Linked DNA regions of Homo sapiens: regions 2, 3, 4 and 5 are each linked to region 1. The links come from fine-mapping of genetic effects on gene expression. A gene starts in region 1. Each other region holds a variant in brackets. All regions are shown on one strand. Distances are between the middles of the regions.

Region 1 (5,000 bases):
AGGAGGCGGAGGCTGCAGTGAGCCGAGATTGTGCCACTGCACTCCAGCCTGGGTGACACAGTGAGACCCTGTCTCAAAAAAACAAAAGCCCCCAACACGCCACTGTTTGCTGACACACCATGTCACCCTCTTCCCCAGGGGCTTCAGGTGGCATCTTGCCATACCAAATGCTGTCCTAACTTTTTTCTTTCTTTTTTTTTGAGAAGGAGTCTTGCTCTGTCACCTAGGCTGGAATCCAAGGGCACCATGTCAACTCACTGTAACCTCCACTTCCCAGATTCAAGTGATTCTCCTGCCTCAGCCTCCCAAGTAGCTGGGACTACAGGCGCCCACAACCACGCCCAGTTAATTTTTGTATTTTTATTAGAGACGGGGTTTCACCATGTTGGCCAGGCTGGTCTCGAACTCCTGGCCTTAAGAGATCTGCCCGCCTCGGCCTCCCAAAGTGCTGGGATTACAGGCATGAGCCACCACACCCAACCAGCGTTTTTCTAATGCATTAAGTAAAATGAACTTAACTTCTCCTTGAAAAGTATTTTTCTAAGGATTTCATGACCCTCTCCAAAGTCACATAACTCTGCATTGTGGTAAAACTGGGGTCTGAAATCAATGCCCTAGGGGATAAAATCCAAACCCTAATCTCTGCCTTCCTTAGAGGTCAAGACTAGCTCCTAGAACTTCAGCCCCATGAGGCCCCACATTCTCCACCAGACACGGAAAGGGTGAGACCTAATTAATGGCAATTGATCCATCAATCAATTTTCAGAGATTAAGGCGAGCGTTGATTCACATGCTTCCCAACGCAGACTTCCAGTCTGTACTAAGTTCTGTGCTTTACGAAAGACTTTCAGAAACAGATCTTAACTTCTTCATTCAGAGATAGATTAGATAGATACATAGATACAATTAAAAAGAAAAAAATTACTTTGTTGAGATCCCCTCTGTCCTTATCCTCATGGCCACATCTGACAGTCCCTTCCTAGCATCTCCCAAAGCACTATCCCAGGAAAGGACTAGGTTTGCCCAGTAACTCTGACATGACCACAACTGGGGGGAAAGAATGCAGGTTTGAGGGACAGAGATGCAAGTCAGAAGCTCAAAGTGGAGACGGGAGGGCCACCAATGAAATGACCTGCTGTGTGGCCAGCAATTTAGTCTCTCTGTCAGTTTCCTGCAGCTACAAAAATTGAGGTTAAGATGGCCAACGTAAGAGAGCTGTTACCAGGAATGCCTTATAAAATCATTCCCTTAATAAGTGGGGCTTTTAACAGCCAAATAAATGGGTCCCATCAGCCTTTGACCTTCAGGTTGCTAAGGGCAGTTTCTCAGCCCTCTCGGTTCACTTGTTTTTCTTTTATACATATATCCTTATTTATTTTTACTGTACCTATCGATTCACTGTTAAAACAGGGACAAGACCTAGAAAGATGGCACTTTGTTTCCTGGCTCTGAACAAGTTAAATCAAACAATAGGTTATAATTCAAAATTCCTGGTGCCCAATACTTTCTGAGCATTTTAACCACTCCAAGCCAGAGTTTTCTCTCTGGCAAAGAATAACAGAAAGCTCACATAGTGGCAACGACAACTGAACGTGATAAAGCAGAGCGCCTGCCACAACAGTAGATGCCCAATAAATGCTAGTTCTCCTCCTCCCTCAGTGCCATGTCTTCTTCCTCCAGCTGCCTTGTCTAAAAAGGCTGGCTTCCACACTCCACGGCCAGGCCAGGACAAGCCTACCACTTGTCAGAAACTCCCGCCAGTATCCGTTCCTGCACCCAGACACACACTTACAAATCAGTCATCCCCAAGACCAAAGACACAGGGGTTCCAAAAGGCACCCTCAAGGGAACCAGTCACCAGCCTTCCTCGTTAAGCAGCTCTGTGCTCTCAGGGAGAGAACTTAGCCCCAGCAGCCACTACTAGGATTTTCCCATGGTGCAATGCAACTTCCCCAACTTTTCCGGGCCCAGTTTCCAAAGAAACCCAGGCAGGCGTTGTGCACAATCAGCCACCAGTCTGGGAGAGACTGGGCTCTGAGCAGAGAAAAAGGAGCTGGGACAGCCAGAAAATGAAAAAGCAGTTGTGGCCCCGGCACAGGATGGCAGCGACCAAAACTTAAGAGTAGGGGTCCTGGCCCAAGTCCCATTCTTCTGGACGGTACCCTTGGTTAAAGGCTAGCACAGGGTGCCAAAGCTAGCGGACGGTGAGGAGCCTCAGAAAAGGGACTGATGGACATCCTCCGAGGTACCCCCTACCCGCTACTGGACCTGGTGGCCCCCGGGGACCCTGTCGTCGAGGCACCTGAGAGTGAAGGCCTTCAGCGGGGGGCATTGTTCACAGCGAACGGCGGGACTGGGGGAGGCGGCGGGACTTCGGGATCCGCGCACCGCCGCCTCCCCAACTGGGCCAGAGGAGCGAGTCCACCGAGGCCATCGCCAGGTGGAGCGGCGGCCCCGGCGAGGTACCCTCGGCCAGCAGGAGGGAGAAGCGGAGGGCGCGTCCCAGAGGCGGGGGCCAAGGGTCTGCCACTCACCCGCGCCTTCGGCGGGCTGCGGCGGCCCGACGACGCCGTTCAGGTAGAGAATGGGCAGCAGGTGAGGCTGCGTCTTCTCCAGCGCCGCCCGCAGGTCCTGGAAGTGGTCCCGCTCCTTGGCCAAGAGCAGCTTGAGCAGCAGCTCCGCCTTGGCGCCTCCCGCCTCCTCGTCCAGCTGCCGCCGCTCGCCGGGACTGAGCGCTCCCGCGGCCTCGAGCAGCCCGAGCACGGCTTCCACCTCCGTCATGGCCTGGGCCAGGCTCTGCTGACACTGGGCGAGCAGCTCCCGGCGCTGGGGCTCCATGGTGGCGGGCCGCGCCGCCCCGCCCCGCCGGACGCCTCCCGGGCCCCCCGAGGCCGGCGGGCGGGCAGGCGAGCACCTCGGCAGCAGCCCTAGGGCGCCGGGAGCCGTGAGGCGGCGGGAGCCATGGGCCGGGGCCTGGGCGGGCTGGGGGCCCGGGGCGGCGGGCGGCGCTCAGCAGCGGCCGCCTCCCGGGCTCCGGAGCGCAGCCATGTTGGCTGCCGCGGCGGCGGGACTGGAAGAGGAGGAGGAGGAGACGGAGGAGGAGAAGGAGGAGGCGGAGGTGGGGACGGCGGCCGGGGCGCGCCCCGAGGCCGGGCTCCAGCCGGGCATGCTCCCCCTCCCCCTCAGCCTCCGCGCGCGCCGCCCGCCCCGCGAGAAAACTCGCCCCGAAAGCCGGGCCGCGCGCCGCCCCCAGAGCAAGACTACAACTCCCGGGAGAAAGTCGCCTGGGCCGTGTTTCCCAGGCTCCCGACAGCTCCGGCCCGGCTCGGAGGCCGCCTCGGCCCCCGTGCACCCCGGCCCGGCTCACCGGGGCCCCGCGGCCGCCACCCGCTCCCCCGTGGCCACAGCCCCGCCGCCGCCGGCCCGTCCCTCCTCTCTCCCCTCCCCAGGCCGTCCCTCCGGGAGGCGGCAGCAGGGGAGGAGGGGACGGGCGGAGGGGAGGGGTCCCCGGCCCGCCCGCTAGGCGGGGACGCGGCGCCGGCTGGTTCCCGGTCCCCCGAGGCCCAGGCGCAGCCGGGGGTGGGGGACACGGAGTCAGGCCTGGCACGCGGCCAGCCCACAAGCTGCTGGAGACCCCCTCATACAAATCTTGCCCCCAGTCCAGAGGGTCCTAATCTGAGAACTCCAAAATACAGCCTGGAGACAAATGGTGGGGAGGGTTTCCCCTAAATTTGGACATCTCCAGATTAAGACCTCCGCCGAATCCGTGAGGCTTTCCCTCTCCAAGGAGCTCCTAAGAGAATTTCCCAGTAAAATCGCCTCAACTGCGGTAAATAGGCTGTTCCCCGCGCCAGCATTTGAGAAGAGCTGGTCCCCAGAGTGTAAAGGAGTTAGGATGTTGGCAGGAGGAAGGATGTGTCGCCGGATGAGGAAAAGAAAGGTGGGTGTCTGCGGTGCAGTCCTTGGTCTTTCTGGCAAGTGAGGCGCTCTCCCCCTAAATGTCTCAGAGGGAGACAAATCAGCGGACTACCTTGCTTCCTTTGATGACTTGGAAAGGATCTGCAGTCCCCCTTAAAGCCCAAGAATGTCTTCTCTTCCACGACAGCCGTTTGTGGACACATACTGCTTACCTCCCTGACTGCAGGACAAGGTCCTTCAAAGCTGGAACTCTGACTGCGCTCAGTGATCCCGCAGTGCTCCTCTGTAGAGTGGGAACCCAGGTCCATTTCAAATATCTACGTTGGAATGAGTGGATCTCGCTGGGGGTGAGAGGCACTTTGTCTACCCACACTGCCAGTCCCAGCCACATGCCTCCTCCCTTCCCTCAAAAAGCAGTGTCTTCTTAGTCTGCTTCTTCAAGGGGAGAAGTCGTTTTTATTTATGGAAACGAACTCACTATATGGTAGAAAGAACAAGAGTATCAGAATTTGCACTTTGGACTTGGACTCCCCTCTAAGCAGCTGCACAAGGTGGAACAAACCAATAATCCTTGCTGATCTGTTTTGTCCTTAGGAAAAATGGTGGAGGGAGAATATTAGATCAGGGGTTCTTAGCCTTGGCTTCATGAATAAGCTCAAGGATGTCAATGAAGCTTTTGACATGATCTCAACTTTTTTGTGAACATTTATATATTTTTCTGGAATGGGGTCCATAGAGTTACAAGTTCTTTAAGACCTCCAGATGGACCCCAATATGGCAGAAATGAACTATTTAAAGATACCTGCCTGCTCCCGTAGTCTGACCCTCTATGGCTAAGCAAGGTTTTAGAGGAGTGGAAGGCTGGCCATTGCACAGTATCAGGGTTCCAGACAGGCTCCCTGGCTCTTCCCTCCCAGTCCTGCTCCTGAGATATAGTTCTTTCTGGCCGCCACTTCCCTTAGGGCAACCCCAGAGCTTAAATCATCTGCAAGGCAGTCACCTTTCAGGCACCTTTCATCCGGCACCTGTGTTCTTAGCTGGATTAACTAGAAAGCTAGTTGGAGGAAGGAAGGTGAAAGTGG
Region 2 (5,000 bases), 45 kb after region 1:
AAATACCAAAATTAGCCGGGCATGGTGGTGTGTGCCTGTAATCTCAGCTACTTAGGAGGCTGAGGCAGGAGAATCATTTGAACCCAGGAGGCAGAGGTTGCAGTGAGCTGAGATCATGCCATTGCACTCCAGCCTGGGCAAAAAGAACAAAACTGTCCCCCCTCTCCCCATCCCCCCTCCAAAATGCAAAAAAAAAAAAACCACCCAGGTTAGACAGTAGTTTCAGTATTAGGGAAGGGGCCTAGAGAACAGCAGGGTAAGCTGTGGCACACACTGACACCAGGGCCGGGTTGGGGGGGGGTCCCAGGCACCGTCTTGGGGCTCAGCTTCAGGTCCCAGGACAATTCCTGAAAGGTAAGAGGGTGAGGTATGGAAGGAGCTAGCCAATACTTGAGACTCCATCAGCAGTGACCAGCTCCCTCCGCGTGTTCTGCCTAAGCGATGTACAAAGCTTTCCAGCTTCTAGATGCCTCACGGATGCTTGGAAGCAGAAATGCATGGCTGAGACTTTAATCTCCACTATATAGACTGGGAAACAGATGCAGAAGGGAGGCAGCCTGCCGAAGGCAATGCCGCTAATGGCAGGCAGAAAGGTGGCTAGAACTGGAGTCATGGCTATCCCAGTCCAGGTCCATTTCTGCCAGACCAGTGGATTTATCACCAGATCTGCAAATTCATACTTCCCTGAGTGCTGTCTTACTGAATAAGTAGCTTATCTTGTACATGAGGAAGATCATGTTGTCTATGGGGAGAGATTGTGATTTACCTGTAACACCAGTGTCAGGTGATTATACCATGCTCCCTGACTCGGAGCTTTACTGCAGGCCACTCGGGTCAGGCCTGTTCCTCGGTGGTGGAACAGACTGCAAGGTACAAGAACAGGCTTCTTCTAGCCTCCGACTTCCCCAGCCCACTGGCACTCCTCCCAGAAATGAAGTTTGGAAGCACAGGCCTACTTAAGGCCTGGACAACCCAAAAAGCTTCCTGAGAAGGTGATGAGACTCGGGTCTGGATACACTGGGCTCTCTTCATGTTTTTTCCCTTTCCTTTCTTTTTCTTTTTTTTCCCCCTGAAACAGGGTCTTCTTCTGTCACCCAGGCTGGAGTGCATTGGCGCAATTTTGGCTCACCGCAGCCTCTGCCTCCCAGGTCCAAGCGATTCTCATGCTTCAGCCTCCCGAGTAGCTGGGACTACAGGCACATGCCACCATGCCTGGCTAATTTTTGTATCTTTAGTAGAGATGGGGTGTCACCATGTTGGCCAGGCTGATCTCGAACTCCTGACCTCAAGTGATCCATCTACCTCGGCCTCCCAAGTGCTGGGATGCTGGGATTATGGGTGTGAGCCACTGCACTTGGCCTTTTCTTTTTTAAAAAAATTAGATCCATATTTTTAGGACGAGTTCATTTGGCTGGTGAGTTGTTCCATACTCCTTGGCAGATTCCAGCTTCCATGACTACCATCCTGCTTCTCTTTTCTGAGTGTGGACTATCCACCTTCATACAGGTCTCAGGGTTGGGGCCAGGCTAGCAGGAAATAGAAAATCATTTCTGGTTAGCCTAAGCCCCAGGAAGCATTTACTGGAAAGTTCTTGGAGAGTAAATGGAGGAGCTGAATGGCCAACCCCTAGGCTATGTGGCTACTGAGCATGTGAAACTCGCTATGTGCTAAGTGTAAAATAGACACTGGAATTGGAAAACTTAGTATGAAAATAAGAGTGTAAAATATCTCAGTCATTTTTATATTGATTACATGTTGAAATGACATTTTGGGTACGTTGGGTTAAATAAAATGCATTGTTAAAATTAATTTCTCATTTTTTCTCCCTAGGCTCAGGTGATCCTCCCACCTCAGCCTCCCAAGTAGCTGGGATTACAAGTGCGTGCCACCATGCCTGGATAATGTTTTGTATTCTTTGTAAAGACAGGGTTTTGACATGTTGCTCAGGATGGTCTCAAACTCCTGGATTCAAGCAGTACTCCTGCCTCAGCCTCCCAAAGTGCTGGGATTACAGACGTGAGCTACCATACCTGGCCAATACTAGATTTAAAATTACATATGGGCCAGGAGTGGTGGCTCACACCTGTAATCCCAGTACTTTGGGAGGCCGAGGTGGGTGGATCACGTGAGGTCAGGAGTTCAAGACCAGTCTGACCAATATGGTGAAACCCCATCTCTACTAAAAATATGAAAAAATTAGCTGGGCATAGTGGCGTGTGCCTGTACTGCCAGCTACTTGGGTGGCTGAGACAGGAAAATTGCTTGAACCCAGGAGGTGGAGGTTGCAGTGAGCCAAGACTGCGCCACTGCACTCTAGCCTGGGCAACAGATCAAGACTCCATCTCAAAAACAAAAACAAAAACAAATTACATATGACTTACATAATTACTGTCATCTATATTACTATATACTACAGTACTGCTGGACAGTGCTGTGACTAGATTAATTCCACAAGGAAAAGAGCCATAGGAATATTGCTCATCATTCTAAACCCAGGACCTGGTATTGGCGCCAGGATATAGTAGGGGGTCAAAAAAGTGTTATTTGTTGAATGAATGTTTGACAGTCACATTTTCCATCAGCCCTGAAACATTTTAAACAGCCTGCAAAGGGAATGTGATCTAATTTAAATGTCAGTTTATATATTTAAAACAAAACAAAACAAAAAAACCCCACCGTAACTCAAGCATGAAATTTGCAAGAAGGGGAAAGGAAAAGGGAGAATGAAGGGATCAGGGTCTCAGTCTCTTTTTTCTGAGGGATTAGGGGGATATTCTGACCTTTGTCAAGCCAAAAAAGAAAAAAAGAAAGGTCCTGCCCATCAGAGGCAGAGATACGATCATCCTCCACTTCCTGTGGCCCTCCCCCTCTTTCTTTGCTAACAGAGGCGTCTATTTTTAGCTAGGCACATGGCCACCCAGAGTCCAAACATTTTCCAGCCTCTCTGGAGCTGGGTTTGGCTACGTAAGTTCTGGCTCATGGGATGTAAACAGAAGTGTCAAGTAACTTTTGGGAACTTTCCTTAAAGGGAAGTGCTATGTCTCTTTCCCCTTCTCCTGGCTGGAATGCCT[A/G]GAACCTCAGCAGCCACATTGAACCATGAGGAATGGTGGAGGGGTGGTGTAGCAGAAGGCTGGGAGGGGCCTGGGTCCCTCCCCGACAACTTGGTGAACTGTCGTATCAGCCTTGGAATGCCTACTGTGGACTTTTCATGTCAGAAAAGAAAATCCTATGTATTTCAGGCTTGTTGACTTGCATTTTTTGGTCACCTTGTCCTAACTGGTGACTGGTGCCTACCAGCCTTACGTTGCTATCACTGGAAGGGACCACTCAACTACCTTGAGAACACTCAAGTACCTTCCCGGACAGGGTCTGCTCCAAGATGACTGGATTTCTTTACCATCAGCTGTTGATTTATTTTTTTGAGACAGGGTCTCACTGTGTTGCCCAGGCCGGAATGCAGTGGATCTTGGCTCACTGCAGCCTCCACCTCCTGGGCTCAATTGATCCTCCCACCTCAGCTGGGACCACAGATGTGAGCCATGATGCCCAGTTAATTTTTTTGTATTTTTTGTAGAGATGGGGTTTTGCCATGTTGCCCAGGCTGCTAGGTATTGATTAAAAAAAAAAACAAAAACTGGCAAGACCTTCAGAAGGTACAAAATTAGAAAGGTACAATAGAACAGAGTGAAGCCTGGGCAACATGGTGAAACCCCATCTCTACCAAAAAAAAAAAAAAAAAAAAAGAAAGAAAAATTAGCTGGGCAATGTGCCTGTAGTCCTACTCGCTCTGGAGGCTGAGATGGGAAGGACTGCTTGAGCCTGGGAGGTGAAGAGGTTGCAGCGACCCGAGATCATCACGCCACTCTACTCCAGCCTGGGCGACAGAGCATGAACCTGTCTGGGAAAACAAACAAACAAAAAACATAGGGTCACTTCCTACCTCTGTCCTTGTCATACCCATTTTCTGTTCCATTCTTCTTCTTCTTCTTTTTTTTTTTTTTTTAACAGGGTCTCACTCTGTTACCCATACTGAAGTACAGTGGCGTGATCTTGGCTCATCACAACCTCTGCCTCCCAGGATCAAGTGATTCTCCTGCCTCAGCCTCCTGAGTAGCTGGGATTACAGGTGTGTACCACTAGTACCCGGCTAATTTTTGTATTTTTAGTAGAGACGGGGTTTCACCATGTTGGCCAGGCTGGTCTTAAACTCCTGACCTCAAATGATCCACCAGCCTCAGCCTCCCAAAGTGTTGGGATTATAGGCATGAGCCACTGTGCCCGGCCCTAATATATTCTTTTAAAGAGAGAGAAAAATGTTAAGTTCTCCCTTATGGGATACCTTCTTACATAATCTAAATACATAGCTGTTGTCAACATCCATACCTCTACAAAAAAACCTGCCTGTCTGAATTATTCTGGTCTTACTACCTGTGACTCTAAAATGAGATCACGCTTACCTTATGGCCTGCATTAAAGTGTTCAAGCCCTCAACCACACAGTGGCCACATCCATCCCCTTCCCGAACCCTTCTCCCCCCCCATGTAAAATACTTCCCACGACCTACTGATTGAGCAGACAGCTGGGTAGTCATTATGTCTAGGGAGGCTGGATCCCAAGTCCACCAAGCTCCACTTAGGGTCAAATAAAGAGAGCCAGGGGATTGGTTTTTAGTTGTGAATTCACAGACCATGTTTTTCAGTAAAAAAAAAAGTCACTGTATTAATAATTGCAAACATTTAATGTGTATTATGTGCCAGGCACTGTACTAAGACCTTTTTATGTGTAATCACGTTTAAAACTCACAATGACCCAATGAGTCAAACACTACTAAACAGTATTCCTAGCTTATAAATGAGTAAAGTGAGGCAAGGAGAGGTTAAGTAATTTGTTCATGTGCACCAGATGGAAAGGGAGAATTGACGCTGGGCATGGCGGCTCACGCCTGTAATCCCAGCACTTTGAGAGGATTGCTTGAGCCCAGGTGTTCGAGACCAGCTGGG
Region 3 (5,000 bases), 110 kb before region 1:
CTGAATGACCATAAGGCCCCCACAGAAAGCGGAAGGCGAAAGCAATGGCTCTGACAGCAGCATGGGCATGGCTGGCCCATGAAGGAAGCAGCCCTTCCCAGTAGAGAAATGAGCTCAGTCCCAGGAGGTGACAGGAGCTCGTGTGGGGAGCCCACCCGCAGATCTGGACATTAGGATGCAGGCAGAGATGAAAAGCTTGGCACCCTCTGCAGCACAAAGTCCAAGTGGTGCAGTTACCCAGGCGGGCGCTGGAGGGCAGTGAGTTGGACCCATGGGTGGCTCTCATCTCGGAGTAGTCGCTGCAGGTCCTGTGGCTCAGGTCCAGGCTCAGGCGTCCCTGGTGCTGGACACTGCGTAAAAACAAGAGGTGAGGAGTTCGGGAGGAGAACCAGGAACAGATGTGGCCACTGGGGAGAAACACACAGACCAGGCAAGGGTTCCCAAGCGGGCAGAAGGGAGGCCCAGGAGCCACTGATTATCAGCCGAGGATAGCAGGCTGCCCTCAGCCACTCCCGGAGGTGGCATCCACTAAGAGCCTTCAGGAAGTAGAAAGGGCCACACACATGGGGCGGTCAGTATCATACCCACTCCAGCCATAGGGTCAGGATTAGGCTCACTAGGAAGAAGTGATAAAAAACAGAGGTTTTGCAACCTGGGTGGGCCTGGGGAGGGGGAACCTGTCCTCCCAGGAAGTGGGTAAGGAGAGACAAGGCACAGAGGACTTTGGGGAGGGGACCTATGTGCCTCACTCGGGACAGCGTGCCTAAGAAAATGAAGGGCAGAGCAGGGATCGCCCACATCAGGCTGCCCTGAGACCAGGCCTCAACAGCATCTTTTTCCAGCTATGTAATGAGGTGACATCTCTTCCCTGCTTAAACTCTACAGTGGTCTCCACTGTCCTTAGAATAAAATCCAAACTCTTCATCACCGCTGCAGGTCCCACAGGGTTTGTGCCCTGTGACCTCAAACCTCTTCTTGACTCGCTGCCCCTTTGACAAGCTCCCACGACTGTGCCTGGGTGCCCTGGCCTTGGCACCGATGGCCCTTCTCCCTGGAGGCTCCAGCCCAGGTCTTGTGCAGCTGGCCTCTTTCATCCTTCTGGTCACAGCAGCATCCCCTCTGCCACAGGGCCCTTCCTGACCACCCACTCTAACTTGCCACCCTCTTCCAAGTTACAGCCCAGCCTGTCACCCTGTTTGACTGCCTTCATAGCCTCTTGGCACCATCTGATATCACTTCGTTCATTTTTTTTTTTTGTCTGCCTCCCACATTTGAAAAACCACACGACATGAGCTAGAAGCTAATTTGTTTAGTTCAGCAATGTATCCTCTTATAATTAGGATAGACCAAGGCATGTAGTAGGTGCTCAAAAAATATCTGTCAAATGAATGAATAAGAGTGGCTTGGAGCCAGCCCACCCTCTTATGAAGTACCAGTTTCCTCATCTTCAAGACAGAAACAGTAATAGGACTTAGCCCATGAGGTTGCTGTTGATTCGGTGAAATGATATTCATAAAGGTCTGAGCACAGTGGCTGGGACATAAGCACTCAAACATCAGCTGCTATCACTATCGTGTCCTTCCAGTACCTTTTGAAACCTTGTGCTGATGAATTCAGAAAGCAGCCCTAAGGCTCCCTTTCCCTGTGCTGCTCTAGCCAGTCCCCTCCCAGGCAGGCAAGGAAGCTTCTCCACCAATGAGCCTCTTTATGCACTCATGGTTCCATGTCCAGGCAGGCTTGGGCAGCTGGAGTACAGAGAAGCGTAGGGTGCCTTCACATACCTGGGATGCAAACCCTGGGGGCCAGCATCTCGGGCCGCAGGTGGAGAGCTGCAGGGGCCGACCCTGTGACTGCGCACAGTGTAGATGGGGTTCCGCAGGATGGAGCTCACAGTGGTGCTGGGGGTCAAACTCCGGGGAACAGTGCCTAGAAATGGGCTTGGTGAGAAAAGAC[G/A]CCCCAAAGGACCCAGCCAGCCCAGGACTTACACAAGCCTTTCCCCTGTATCCCAGGACGCAGCCGCAGTCTTTTGGGAAAAGGACTTGGGAGATGAGTTTTAACCACCAATTCACAATGTGGCTGTGGCTCCTGGCCTGTCTCCATTTGTAAAAAGGGGGGAAGTCTCTTTCATGCTTCCTATTTCCCAGGTTGCTATGGGGAGAAAGCATGTTGACAAGCTAAGACATGTCATGGCTATAAGACAAACCATCCCAGACAGGACAGCATTTCCCAGTTCTCTGGACCTCAGGGCTGAAAACACATGGCAGCTCTCTGAAATGCTGCCTCCCCTCTCCCTGGAGACTAGGCATCCCGAGTTTACACCGACCCTCAGCCCCAGCCCCTGGCTGGCTGACTCACCCACAGACGGCCTGCTAGGGTATAGCGGGGGGTTGCTGTGCCGGCTGGAATGCCCAGGCGAGTAAGGTGCCCACTCCTGGAGCTCCGGGGAGAGTTCTCCACTGGCCGGGACACACTTCTGTTCCTGCAGATGCAAGGGCAAGAGTGTCTGCTAGAAAGAGTGGAGTGTGGCCAGGCGCAGTGGCTCACACCTATAATCCCAGCACTCTGGGAGGCCGAGGCGGGCAGATCACCTAAGGTCAGGAGTTCAAGACCACCCTGGCCAACATGGCGAAATCCCGTCTCTACCAAAAATACAAAAATTAGCTGGGCATGGTAGTGGGTGCCTGTAATCCCAGCTACTTGGGAGGCTGAGGCAGGAGAATCGCTTGAACTCGGGAGGCAGAAGTTGCAGTGAGCCAAGACTGCACCACTGTACTCCAGCCTGGGTGACAGAGTGAGACTCCATCTTAGGGGAAAAAAAAAAAAAAAACCAAACAGTGGAACGCTTGAGCAGCTCTGCAAGCCAGTTTCTGCCCCCCAGGAACCAGCTCCTCCCACTGGGGCACAGGAAGGGACATGAATGGGAACGCTGCCCATTCATGTTGCCTTACACATCTTCAAGGAAGCAGCTTTACTTCAGAAGAAAACCACAGAGAATGAATCTTTCACAGAGATCACGTAAAAGGTGAGAATGCACAAGTGCATCAGGCACGTACAACTCTGCCCGATGTGGAGGGCTGTGCGAAGCTCTTTGTCCCCAGTGAGCAGTGTGGACTGGTGCCTGAGATGCTTTCCACAGTCCCCAGCAATCTCACCCTTCTGGAAACTATGACAGCACACGCAATCAGGCCGTCCCGCTGCCCACTCAGCCTCACACGTGCCACCTCATCTCCCTAGCCCTTCAAGGCAAGTCTATGCCCTAGGTTTTATTGTGTAAGTTCAAAAGCTTCTTATTAAAAAAGCAAACCAAATGCTATGCCCAATAAAGTGTTCCCCTCTTGTGTCACACTCCCACTACCATGCACTTCCACGCCACTTACCTACCTCCTAGCTGGGCCACTTCCCACTTGAGTCCAACAGCAAAGGCAAAGGCACCAGGCTAAACAGGGGCCTGGGACACTGGTGCAGGGCCACTTAGCAGCCCTCCTTCGGCCAACTGCCCCTCTCTAGGCCTCCCCTCCCCACACCCTGGGGCTCAGCTATACCTCCAGGAACTGAGCAGGAATCACTACTGGAGCAAGCTTCGGCCGAAAACTGGGAGCAGATTTTGGCCGGCGACGCTTCTGCCCCAGCTCATCCACCTTCTGGGAGGTGAGGTCCTCATCACAGGATTTCTTGGCCGGCAGGTGGGAGGAGTCCCCATCTCCTTCAGGGTAGTAGCTGGAAGCAATGCGGACCCTGGCCTTGCGAGGGGGTGATGCGTGCATGGGCTCCCCGGGGTCCACGTCAGGGGGCAGGGCGCTCGGGGGACTAGTGGATGGGGAGCTGCCCACCAGAGTGGCTTCTGACTCGGAGCTAGTCTCCAGCCTGTGCTGGAACTTAATGGAGTCGCTCCTTCTGGGAGGTTTTGGGGGTGTCAGAGGCCCCGCCCTCTTGGAGGGCTGGGGAGAGTGAGCAGGCCCAGGACCTGGAAGCAGGTAGTCTATTTTGGGGGGTGTCTGGGGGCGTTTGAAAGTGTTAGGGTCAAAGATGGACTTTCTTTGCTTTGGCTTTTTATAAACAGAGAGCTTCTCAGGCACTGCCGTGGAGCTGAGCATGGCCTTGGGCCAGGTCCCGCCGCTGTTGGAGCCTTCAGAGTCTGCCTTGTCCAGGGAGGCCTCCCCAACCCCACAGGGGCCCACCTCGGTCTCAAAGGGCAGCAGTGGCCGCCGGCCACGCACGTCCACCAGCCCAAAGCCACGGTCCCCAGAGGCATCTGAGCGGAAGGAGCTCAGGCTACGCTCAGAGGCACTGGGACAGGCCTGGGGGCAGACCTGCAAGGGTCCCCCAGGGAATGGCTTATGCAGAAAGGAGCTGCTGCCTCCTGGGGGGCCTGGCTCCTTCCTGTCTTCCAGCCTGTCCGTGTAGAAGATGTCTGTCTGCGTGGAGTTATTGTGCTGTATCAAGTTCCGTTTGTTATGAGCCTGGACCTCCGGGCCATGGGCTCGAAAACTCAGCATCTTATCAGAGTCTTTGATATTTTCAAAAATGTTCTGGCCACTCCACGAGGAGCTCTGAGGGAATACCTAGGCAGGGATTGCAGAGGAGTGAGAGAGAGAGTGAGATGGCAGGACTTGGAGCTGCCACTGAAAACCATCCCCAGAGGTAAAGCAATGGTCAGGAATGGGCCACCTGCCCCTTAAAAAAGAGACAGATAGACAGAGATGCACACACACATGAACACATATGCTTCTCCCTAATGGATAAGTTTTCTCATGGCTCTGGTCACTCTGAACTCAAAGAAGAGTCAAAGTTTTCTTAACTTTGAACACTTTCTGAAATTATCTGGGCCGGGCACAGTGGCTCATGCCTGTAATCCCAGCGCTTTGGTAGGCTGAGGCAGGCGGGTCACGAGGTCAGGAGTTCGAGACCAGCCTGACCGATATGGTGAAACCCCATCTATACAAAAATTACAAAAATAAGCCAGGCACGGTGGCATGCACCTGTAGTCCCAGCTACTTGGG
Region 4 (5,000 bases), 130 kb before region 1:
ACTGTGCAAGAAAATATATCCCTTTTTAAAAAACATCAGTTATGGCTAAACTACAATCTAGTGTCTAGAATTACAAAGAATAAAATGAAATCAAAGATTTCTCGCTAGTAAAATGAAATGTTAGGAACAGTATTAAAATATAGGTCCTACCCCAACGACACTTACACAGAGCCCAGTACAGTACCTATTATTAACAGGACGCATAGCTTAAGGAGGAACCACATCAAATCTTCAGCCAGACATATCTAGCCTCAGAAGTGCAAAAAAAAAAAAAGCCCCCAAACGAAGACACCCACACTGAGTAGGGTGCATGCCGTGAGTGCTGTAATCAAGATTAAAAAGACCTCAGTTTTTCTTTTTAGACTGTTGATAGTGACAATAACCATTATGCTTCCCCTAAAAGCTCTCAATTCAATGTCTGAAACATGAATGTTTTCATATCAAAAAGAACTGATGTACCTGCCACCCTCTAAAAAGTTTAAGAATTACCCTGCAAACATTGCACTGATGAAGGCTGTCACGACTTACAGAGCCTAAGGAGGACCCAATGGCAGGCATCAGCACAGCTGAACACCACCTGGACCCCACTGCAGCCCTGCCCACGCAGCTCTCACGGAGCAGACACAGTCCTCAAGTAATAAGCACAGATGGAGGAGAAACGAGAGGCTGTGGAAGGCAGGAGAGAAAGGCCGAGAGACGAGTTTGTAAGAATGCCAAAGTCACCTTCCCCATTGTGGGAGGAAAATGCCAAAGGCACTGGTTCTGCTGCCACAGGCAGTCTGAGCACCTGGAGTTGTGACGTCCTTCCAGGAGAGGTGCCACCAAGGAGCAGGAGGTTTGTCAAAGCTCTGGTCCCACCAACAAGAACCTCCCAAAGCAAAGCAGCCCCCATTGAGGTTCCAAGGTCGTTTTGCTGAAGACGGGAACGAAACCAACACCAAAGCGACAGGGGGTTGACAGAGGGGACAGGGGCTGGGCACCGGCAACATGGAGCCGTTCAAGTAAACATAAACCACCAAATACTTAGAAAAGGCTTGTAAACGAGTGATCCGAAAGGTTCTCTTTGCAGCATCTCTGATCAGCTGGCTAAAGAAAGGTGGGTGCTGAACCCGTCTTTAGTGTTATCTGTTTTGTGTTAAAGCACACGTGTGACACGGGCAGAGTGTGTGGGCCTGGGCCTGGATCGCACGCAGCCGTGGCCCTCTGTCTACAAAGGAGGTGCTTCTGGGTCCTGGTTCCGGATCCTTCCCCCGCATGTTCATAGACGGACAGACTTCTACTTTCAGTCGCTAGAAAAGAGCTGAGTCTGGTGTCCCCTCAGGCGGCCAGCTGCAGTCATCCACAGCACAGCATTCTCCTAGAGCGGGCAGGCTGGAATCCACAGGACTTTATTTTGTTCTTGATTGACCATTGCCAAGATCTGAGTGCAAATGCTTGACAGGGCTCCTCCCTGGATGACCCCTGCAAAAGAGCCCCCCAGACACGTCATTCAGCTCAGAGTAAGACCCCAGGTTTGAGGCAAGGCAGTACAGCTTGCACTCTTTCTACTGTGTGGCTGTCTGCTTTGTGCTCCTTGGCACTCTGCTCCATCCCCACCTGACTCTCCTTCACCAGCAAGAAACTGGGAAAGAAAATTGCCCCTCTTGAGTTGATCACTCATATGTAAACTGCCCACCCCACTGCAGTTAACACCCTGGGTTGGGTTTGCAATGGTTGGGGGAATCCCAGGGCATCAGAAGGAAGTTTGGAGGACATGTGGCGGTGGTCTAATCATTAGCAGGATTCTGCAGGAAACGACAAGTTTAAGGAGCCAGATAGCTCATGGCCAAGAGGAGAGTCACAGAAAGATGATGGCGCCAACTTGGGCCAGCCCTGTACTATAGGAGTTTGACAAAGGGGTCTATAGACACCAGGCCAGGGGTACTCCAGTGTGCTCCACATAACAGCACCTGGACACAAACCAAGCCCCTACTGCAACAAGGCATGCTCAGAAATTGACAGTGAGTGTCTAGAAACTGCTATGGAAACAGGACGTCGTAATTTTATGTCTGTTGAATCTAACAAGAAAAAAATAGAGCTTACCTTTTGCAAGACTTAGAGTTTTAAATTTTCATCTCTCTAGGAATTGTCAGTGTATTTGGCTAAATACCAGTCTGTGAGGAATTGGAAATGAAAGTTCACACACACACCCACACACACACACACACAGAGGCATGCACACCTGCACATACCTACACACACATGGGCACCAAGCCCAGGTCCCTGGACTAGATCATAACACTCTCCACAATGCAGTTAGAATCCCTGTCCCATCCTCTGTGACTGCAAATGCTAATGCCCTGCAAATGACAGACTTTCCCAAAGAGGCTGAAGGCCAGAAGGTAAAATAGAACCA[A/C]ACTTCACTGAGTTTGTTTCACTTTGAAGACCAGAGATGGTAAGGGGACAGCATTGTTTTTTTTTGTTTTGTTTTTTGTTTTTTTTTTTTTGGAGGGGGGTTTGCCAAATCCCGCTGCAAAACGGGACTGCCCTGGAGGGTGCTAGGGACAGATGGGCCCCTAGCCTCCGCTGCCCACACTGCTGGCACACTGGGGGCTGCTCCAGTCCCCGCCCTGCCTGGGGACACTGTGGCTGCACTAAACTGCACCTGTGCTATGAGACAGACCCACCACTGCACGTGTGAAAATGAGCAGGCAAGCCAGGCAGGACCTGAGGCCAAGATCGGTGAGCTTAACATTCAACCTGTAAGAATCCTGACGTTGGCCAGGGACTGCAATCTGAACACCTGACTTGTCAGGAACGTGCTCATGACAGCACTTGGGAGCATGTAGAAAGTGCGGGCTTCTCCACGGCTAAGAAAACAGCCTTAGGAAGCCTCTGCTTCCTTCCCTGCTGCCTGCTCCCCACTCCAGGCCCACGCACACCTACCTGTGAAGTACCTGCTGTACTCCTGCTCAAGCTTCTGCGCCGCCTCAAACTGCTCTTTGGAATGCCTCTGAGTCACCTTGTCCCTCAGGTAGATGGGGTCTCTCTGCTCCCTGTGGGGACAGCCAGACACCAGGCTGAGCACTGAGCCTCCTCCAGGCCCTCTTTCCTTCCTCTGTCCAGGCTAACAGGGGCCCCATCAAGGCAGGGGTAGGCTGTGGAGGGAGGCCCCATGTGCTCCCCACATAAAGCACAGCAACAGCCTGTAGGCTGTCGGGGGAGCTCTGGGCAGATGGGGGAAGGAGGGCCCCCCAGCACACACACTTGGAACAGATGCACCAGCAGCCCCTAGCGCAGGTCCCAGAAGCTCAGCAGCACAGAAAGGCAAAATGGAGCAGGGCCTTGGTGAGCCCTTGGCCCAACCAGCACAGGAGCCGAAGCTCAGCGAAGGCAACGGCTCCTGAGTCATGAGCCAGCTCGGGGCTGAGTGGGACTGTGCCCAGGCCACTGGCTCCCCTGCTCCTAAGCAGCACGTAGCGAGGAAAGGGGGCTGGGGCAGGAGAGGGGAGCTGTGCAGACCAAGCTGGCCATGCCCAAAAAACAGTGGCAGCACCCAAATGGCGGAGGGGCGCGAGGAAGGGGCTGCGCTTGGCTGACACCACCTCTGAGTAGGGGACAGGGCCGACAGGGAAGGGTCATTTTCTACACGTACTGCCTATTTCAAGACCCATAGGCCCATCTCTCATTCCTCAACCCCCCACCCCAACACACCCTGCTCCCTACTTGGGCTCCCAGCCCCACCTGTGACAAGGCCCCAGCGGAGCCCAGGGGGCCAGTTACCTACTTGATGTGCTTGGCGCTCTTGTAGTGGATGAAGATGACAATGGGGTAGATGTGCATGTGGTGGAGCCGCTCAATAGCGTGCGGAGCAATGTCCAGGAGGCAGTGTCGGTTCTGGGGTGGGGGGTGCAGAGTGAGCCCTGGCGGGCAGTGAGGGGCAGCCAGCCCCCTGTCCTGCCACCAGCAGGACCCACCTCACCTCACAGGGCTCTACCCACAAACAAGGCAGTAAAGCCACACAGTACACCGTGGGGAAACCATACCCACGAAACTCCCAACAAACCCCACTTGCTGTGAGGAAGGCCAAGGCTGGGAGCCAGGGCTTAGGGGGCTAGGGGTGCTGGCCAGCCCAACTCCAAACTTCCTTTCCCGCCTTTGCCCAGATACAGGGACCTTCTGAAAGCCCTGCCCCACCCTGGCCTCTGAAGCCTTATTTTTGCCAGACTGAGCGAATGAAGAGCCAGAGTCTGGTGAGCCTTTGTGTGGCTGAGACTGAAATATGTCTGTCATGTCTGTCGTCCCAGGCATCCAGGTGGAGTGCAGGCCCGTGCACTCCCGACCCCCAGATGCTCCACTGGGGCATTCCCCCAAGTAGAGTTTGCCCACTTTCAGCAGTGAGAAGCCAACACCTTCATCTAACAGAGAAGGGAAGCAAAGCCCAGCGAGCGAGCTGAGCAGCCTGGAGAAATGGAGCCCAAGGAGCGGCTGTGTCCTTGGACTCCGAGTGTTTGCCCCACCAGCACTCCCCACAGACGTCCCCGCCCTCGTGCTGCCTAGGATGTTCGAAGGCACCGAGAGTCATAGCCCTTTTAGGGGCAGGGACCCTGAGGGAAGGCACGTTCCTGTCCCCAGAAGGTGCATGTGAAATTGTTCGGCACATGCATTTGGGGACCCCGTTCCGGAATGCCCTGCGAGAGGCCTTTCCGCAGAGCTCAATACTCTCATCAGAGATGAGACCCCCCGCACCTGCCAGAGAGGAAGATGGGGCGGCACATACACAGGGGAACTCCTCCATCCCCACCAAGGGATGTGCTTGCAGAAACACACAGCAGCCATGAGGGCAAGCCCAGGCACAGGTGAACTCAGACTAACACAACACGGTGGGCTCACTGAAGGTCTGAGCCGCTGGGGCAGAGGATCACGGACCAGGGGCCTAGACCTGTGCACAGGAGGTCTAATACTGGATGCCTAATCCTCAGACTGAAGCCCTGGGTACCTTTTCTGTGATCTCCTTTATT
Region 5 (5,000 bases), 89 kb before region 1:
AGTGCATGACAGAGGGAATGTGGAGGACCTGGGCAGGGAAGAGACACCCCCACAGTCACCCGGCAACAAGTGTCAGGTTCCCAATGCCCTGTTTCACCCTCAATGTGCCTGGGGTTAAGGACCACCCTCTGCACACACTCACTGTTCTAATGCCAACTTGGGGAGCCAGGGGGTGGCTCTCCTCTGCATGAAGCACCCCCCACCTGCCTGGCAGGCCTGTGCTCCAGCACTACCACATGTCTCATATCTACCCACAGGCAGAGCTTTCTAGAGCTGTCCCTGTACCCTGCAACTAGGAAGGGAGCCCCTTCGGATACCAGCCAGTCCTCATGCATCTCTGTCTCTATTAGCTCTGTGCAGGTGCAAAGTACAAGCTTGGCAAGACTCTATGAAAGAGGACCCCAAGGAGGTGGAAACAGATTACCTGGCTGTGGAGGGGCCTGGGCTCTGTGCCACCTCCAGAAATGGACATACCCAGAGGACTGGTTCCTACCTCTCCACAGCCTCGAATCTCCCCCAGCCTCAGTCAGAGCCTGGCTGAGGACTGCCCCCTGGAGACACCCGTGGAAGGGGTCTGAGCAGAAGCAGACAGGAAGCAGCCCCTGGGCCTCCCTCCCCTTGCACTGGGCACCTAACTGTGCTCTCCATTAGCAGGGCCTCACCACCTAGCCATCCTCATCTCCTGACCAGCCCCTAGAGACATTGGTCTCTCCCCTGACAAACCACAAGAAATCTTTTGGACACCTCCCAAATAGCAAGACATTATCTCTCCCCACCCCAAACATCACCACCACCATAGCCTCTCCTGGTTCCTCCCCAGCCAAGGATCAAGCCCACACTGCTTGGCTTCCCTTTCAAGGCCTCTACACCTGCCCCTGGGAATCTCGCCAGCCTGCCCTCCCCACGACTTGCCCACGTCCCTGCCCTGAGCACACTCCACAGGTGCCCTCCATCTGCAATGCCCTTCCCCCTTTTCCACCTGGAAAAACCCCACTCATGCTTCCAGTTCTAGTGCGAATGCCACACTCTCTGGGGAGACCTCCCCACACCCCAGGGAGCCCTGCATGCCCCCCACAGCCCTAGAGCTCAGTTACACATCTTCCTCCCTCACTGCCGTGCCTGACCAAGCCTCTCCCAAGGTCTCCTTGCTCCAGAGATCTAAGACCCTGGCACACAGTAGGCGCCCGGTGAATACTGCTGAAAGGACACACTTCGGATGTGCTCTTCTCATCAGAAACCCTCAAATAAAAGAGGTCGGCCTCGTGCCCCTTCACAGCGGTCTCACGTGGACATAGTACACACTTGGGACACCTAGGGCTGAGTGAGATGGGAGGGAGAAACAATGGAAAATTCTAAAACTAAGAGGCAAGGCTAGGGCATCAACTAGGGGTGAGAAAGGAGGAGCCCAGGTCCCTCCCACTTTACCTGGACATACAGTAAATGATTCCGACCCTCCCAACAGACCCTAGCAGGTCCCCTCATCCTGGGGAGACGCAAGCCCACGCCAGCTTGAGGTCACCCCATACCGGATGCTGTCACGCTCTGCTACAATCTTGTCTCGCTCCTGGAAGGCCCAGTCCCGCCGGCACTTGGCCACATCCGCCTCCTGGAGGGCTTCCTTCAGCTCCTGGCACAGAGCCTTGCACTGCTTTCGAAGGATTTCAACCTCCTTGTTGGCTCTCCCAGCATCCATTGTCACCGTGTCTTTGATCTGGTGGGAGCAAGGGGCAGGAAGAGGGAGAGGTTGCTGAGCCTCATGGACCAGGAGCGCCTCCCACCAGTGCGGGGGCCAAGGCTGAGGCTCTAGGGAGCTGGATGGAGGGAAACACGGAGCCCATCGCAGCACACCCCATACCCCCAGTGACTGCACCCCACAGCCACGGTCCTATTAACCAGCACCCCCTAGCCCCCGCCATGTCTGTGATCCTATAATCTGGCATACTGAGTTATTTTTAAAGACAAAAATACACCAGTATTCCTGCTGGTGAAGTGCTGTGTATCTCAGTTCATTTAAAAAGCTGAAATCCAAAGCATTTGCATCTTGACACATCCCTAGAGAGTTATATGCTCCACTAAAATTTCAAGTCAAACTCTTAGTAGCACTCATATGAAAACCCCCTCCACACCTCTATAATCCTTAGACAACACAGGGAAATGACGGATGACAAAGCAAGTGTTTACTGCAAGAATAACTCCTCCTCCCGCTTGAGGCTTTCCAAACATGCAAAAGAGAAGCACGACA[G/A]CAGAGGCGCTGATGACACTGGTGTCCCCGCCCCGAGACTCTCCACCCCCAAGTGCTAGGACACAGGAAGACACACACGCACAGGAAGAAAGCTTCCGTTCCCTCTAAAGATCATTCTCCAGACAGCAGGAGACAGCAGCCTCTACAAAAATGTGTTCAGAAAGATCTCAGACGTAGAAAACAAGAGAAGAGAATGAAGTTGACAAGAAAACACCTGGAGTCAGTTGATAATTCCCCTCATCTCTGAAAACAGAGGCAGAGGAGCTGAAAAATAATTTGCACAAAAAGGACCATCAAAACTCGAGGGTGACAGTGCAGTGGCAGGCTTTCCTCAGACCTCACGGTTTCTGGGGGTCATTCAAATCATTTCAGTTTTGATTTTTTTTTCAGCTTTACATGGTATGCTGTGTTTGTTTAGTTTGCTATTTTCAAAAAAAAAAATCCTTCTTAAATTTTCATTTTAAAAAGAATTATTTGGGGGCAGGGTACAGTGGCTCACACCTGTAATCCCAGCACTTTGGGAGGCCAAGGCAGGCAGATCACATGAGATCAGGAGTTTGAGACCAGCCTGACCAACATGGTAAAACCCCATCTCTACTAAAACTACAAAAATTAGCCAGACATGGTGGCATGTGCCTGTGGTCCCAGCTACATGGGAGACTGAGGCAGGAGAATTGCTTGAACTTGGGAGACTGAGGTCTCAGTGAGCCCAGATGGCGCCACTGCACTCCAGCCTGGACAACAGAGGGAGACTCGGTCTCAAAAAAAAAAAAAAAAAAAAAAAAAAAGTGTATTAATTTAGTCAAGAATTTATGATAAACAATACTTTGAAAAATTTACATTATATTTGCTGTTTTACAATATATTTATGGATAGTTTTAGAGCTGACACGTTACCACGTGGATTCCCTGAAAGGTTTCTCCATGGTGCTCTAGATGAGCATCTAGGAGGGAGGCCCCAGGTGCAGACAGGACGACAGGCAGCGCAGGAGGTGGGCAGCTCCCCCAGCCCACAGCTCCCTTCCTTTCCCTGGGCCCCACACCATTGCTGGTATCCAAAATGAATTCATCCCCAAAATACTGCTTCCTTATAAGGAATACAAGAAGTACTATACTTAGTTTTAGTGAGAGGGGAGAGGGAAATGAGGTACCTTAAACAAATGGTAAAATTTGGAAGCCCAGAGGACCCAAGTGACGGACTGACTGATTCTGATTACACTGGTGAGGAACCGCAGGATCTAGAAGTGACTCGCCAGGGCTCCCCCATCCTGCAGAGCTGATCAGTACTGGCTCCTCTACCCCAGGCTGCCTCGGCATCAGATGTCAGTCTGAGTCTGCTCTAAAAGCGCCACCTGCAGTCTCTTTCTTCCTGTGCTGGGTGAACAAAGGCGTGGGAAGAGATGGGCTAGTCTTCACAAGACACTTGCCAGACCCAGGCATGAGGCCAGTGAGAAAGGCCTATGGGCTGCAACCCAGCCCCAGAGGGCCAGAGCCCACTCGAGAGTCCCAGGGGAGGATGGGGCCCGAGTGTGGAGTGGTGCCCCTGAGCAGATGGCTCTCGGGTGAGGGCACCTCCCTCTGCTTCCTGGGAAGCTTCTCTTGCTACAACAGCCCTCTGCCTCTAAGTTCTGGAAAGGCCACTGCTGCCTTGCCTTGTCCCCTGGCACTGTCCAGTCTATCCACCACAGCTGAGCTCAGCTCCTCAAGCAGGACCTGTAGCTGCATGTGTAACTGCATTCAGGGCAGCAGACGGCAGGAGCATGGGGGGCTGCCCTTCTACAGACGGAACTCGGTGAGCAGGGCCCGTCTAGGAAAGTGCGTTGGAACCTGGGAGATTTCTGCAACAGACAGCAGTGGCCTACAGCTTCCAGTGGTGCCGACCTCAACTCCCCAGGCAGTTCCTCCCTCCTCCTGGGAGCAATGAGACTTCCCCGGACAAGGTCAGCTACTGGCCTGAGGCAGGAGGGCGGCCTTAGGGGAGCTCCCGAGGATATCTCTCCCCTGGGAGCTGGGAAGAAGAAGGCGAGGGAGGCAAGGGCACAGCCAACCTGGCAAAGATCCTGACAGGCCCCCGGCCTCCCCATGCTACCTCTTTGCTCCCTCTTTGCCTCAGCCCACTCAGAACACAGAAGGGAGAGAGGGCATAGAGAAGGAAAGGGGAAAATGGAGCAAGACGTGCAGATAGAAGACAGAAGCGTGCAAGCACGATGCCAGAAACTGAAGCCCAGCCCTCGGGCTGAGCAAGATGAAGATGGCTCTGCGGTGAGGGAGCTAGACCTGCCAGAAGGCCCCCCACAGCTGACCCCTGACAGGCAGCAGCCAGTGGGGTGGCGGGGCCAATCCCCAGGGTGCCTCACTGCCCACCCCTCCTGGTCTGCTCTTGCCGGTGGAGAGTGCTCTCTTATCCATGAAGCCAGACCAACTTGAGAAGGAGCTGAGGATTTCAGCTCTCAGAGCTGATGGGGCAGCCGCGGGGGCTCTCTCCTGCCTGCTGACTCGGAACAGGGCCTGGAAAAGATCCCTGCCTCAGCTGACAGGTGCACTTGATGCCCAGTCAACACCCCCTGTGGAGGATGGAGGCGGGCTCCAGGCTGAATGGCTCGCCTGAGTGCTGGGAATGCGGTGGTTGCCGCAAGGACGTCAGGCCTGGAGGTCTCATTGCTGGACGCCAGCACCACAGGGAACTCAGGTGTTCTTTGTGCATCTCTGTGCTTTCTATATTTCTACAAACAGTCTTCACGATTAACTTCAAAGATCTC

Alleles and levels. Alleles are on the strand shown, and positions count from the first base shown. SD is a standard deviation of normalised expression in the study named. Not every link is listed here.
As copies of A replace G in region 3, the expression in whole blood of the gene that starts at base 3,073 in region 1 goes up (small effect, 0.37 SD a copy in GTEx).

The links.
Region 2: its variant is fine-mapped to the expression of DLG5 in tibial artery (GTEx, PIP above 0.99).
Region 3: its variant is fine-mapped to the expression of DLG5 in whole blood (TOPMed, PIP above 0.99). The same link has a PIP of 0.9 or more in pancreas, subcutaneous fat, thyroid, tibial nerve and transverse colon.
Region 4: its variant is fine-mapped to the expression of DLG5 in blood mononuclear cells (TOPMed, PIP above 0.99). The same link has a PIP of 0.9 or more in lung.
Region 5: its variant is fine-mapped to the expression of DLG5 in whole blood (TOPMed, PIP above 0.99).

The regions. Positions count from the first base shown.
Region 1 is chr10:77,923,683-77,928,682 of GRCh38, forward strand. DLG5 (discs large MAGUK scaffold protein 5) reads right to left here and starts at 3,073. Exons shown (of 32, transcript NM_004747.4): 1 at 2,535-3,073. The coding sequence starts at 2,838. It overlaps DLG5-AS1 (DLG5 antisense RNA 1), which reads left to right and starts at 3,130. Exons shown (of 1, transcript NR_024585.1): 1 at 3,130-5,000. RefSeq lists a silencer at 4,766-4,942.
Region 2 is chr10:77,968,530-77,973,529 of GRCh38, forward strand. No RefSeq gene overlaps it. Among named protein-coding and RNA genes, the nearest start is that of DLG5-AS1, 44 kb to the left of the region's middle. RefSeq lists enhancers at 2,579-3,089, 2,722-3,016. The variant A/G (reference allele first, on the strand shown) is at 3,072.
Region 3 is chr10:77,817,540-77,822,539 of GRCh38, forward strand. DLG5 (discs large MAGUK scaffold protein 5) reads right to left here. Exons shown (of 32, transcript NM_004747.4): 15 at 3,543-4,562; 16 at 2,356-2,479; 17 at 1,782-1,926; 18 at 238-350. Among named protein-coding and RNA genes, the nearest start is that of DLG5, 110 kb to the right of the region's middle. The variant G/A (reference allele first, on the strand shown) is at 1,954.
Region 4 is chr10:77,791,083-77,796,082 of GRCh38, forward strand. It overlaps DLG5 (discs large MAGUK scaffold protein 5), which reads right to left. Exons shown (of 32, transcript NM_004747.4): 29 at 4,979-5,000; 30 at 3,767-3,876; 31 at 2,926-3,035; 32 at 1-1,461. The coding sequence ends at 1,358. Among named protein-coding and RNA genes, the nearest start is that of DLG5, 130 kb to the right of the region's middle. The variant A/C (reference allele first, on the strand shown) is at 2,396.
Region 5 is chr10:77,834,212-77,839,211 of GRCh38, forward strand. It overlaps DLG5 (discs large MAGUK scaffold protein 5), which reads right to left. Exons shown (of 32, transcript NM_004747.4): 8 at 1,527-1,711. Among named protein-coding and RNA genes, the nearest start is that of DLG5, 90 kb to the right of the region's middle. RefSeq lists a silencer at 2,083-2,355 and an enhancer at 2,777-3,397. The variant G/A (reference allele first, on the strand shown) is at 2,243.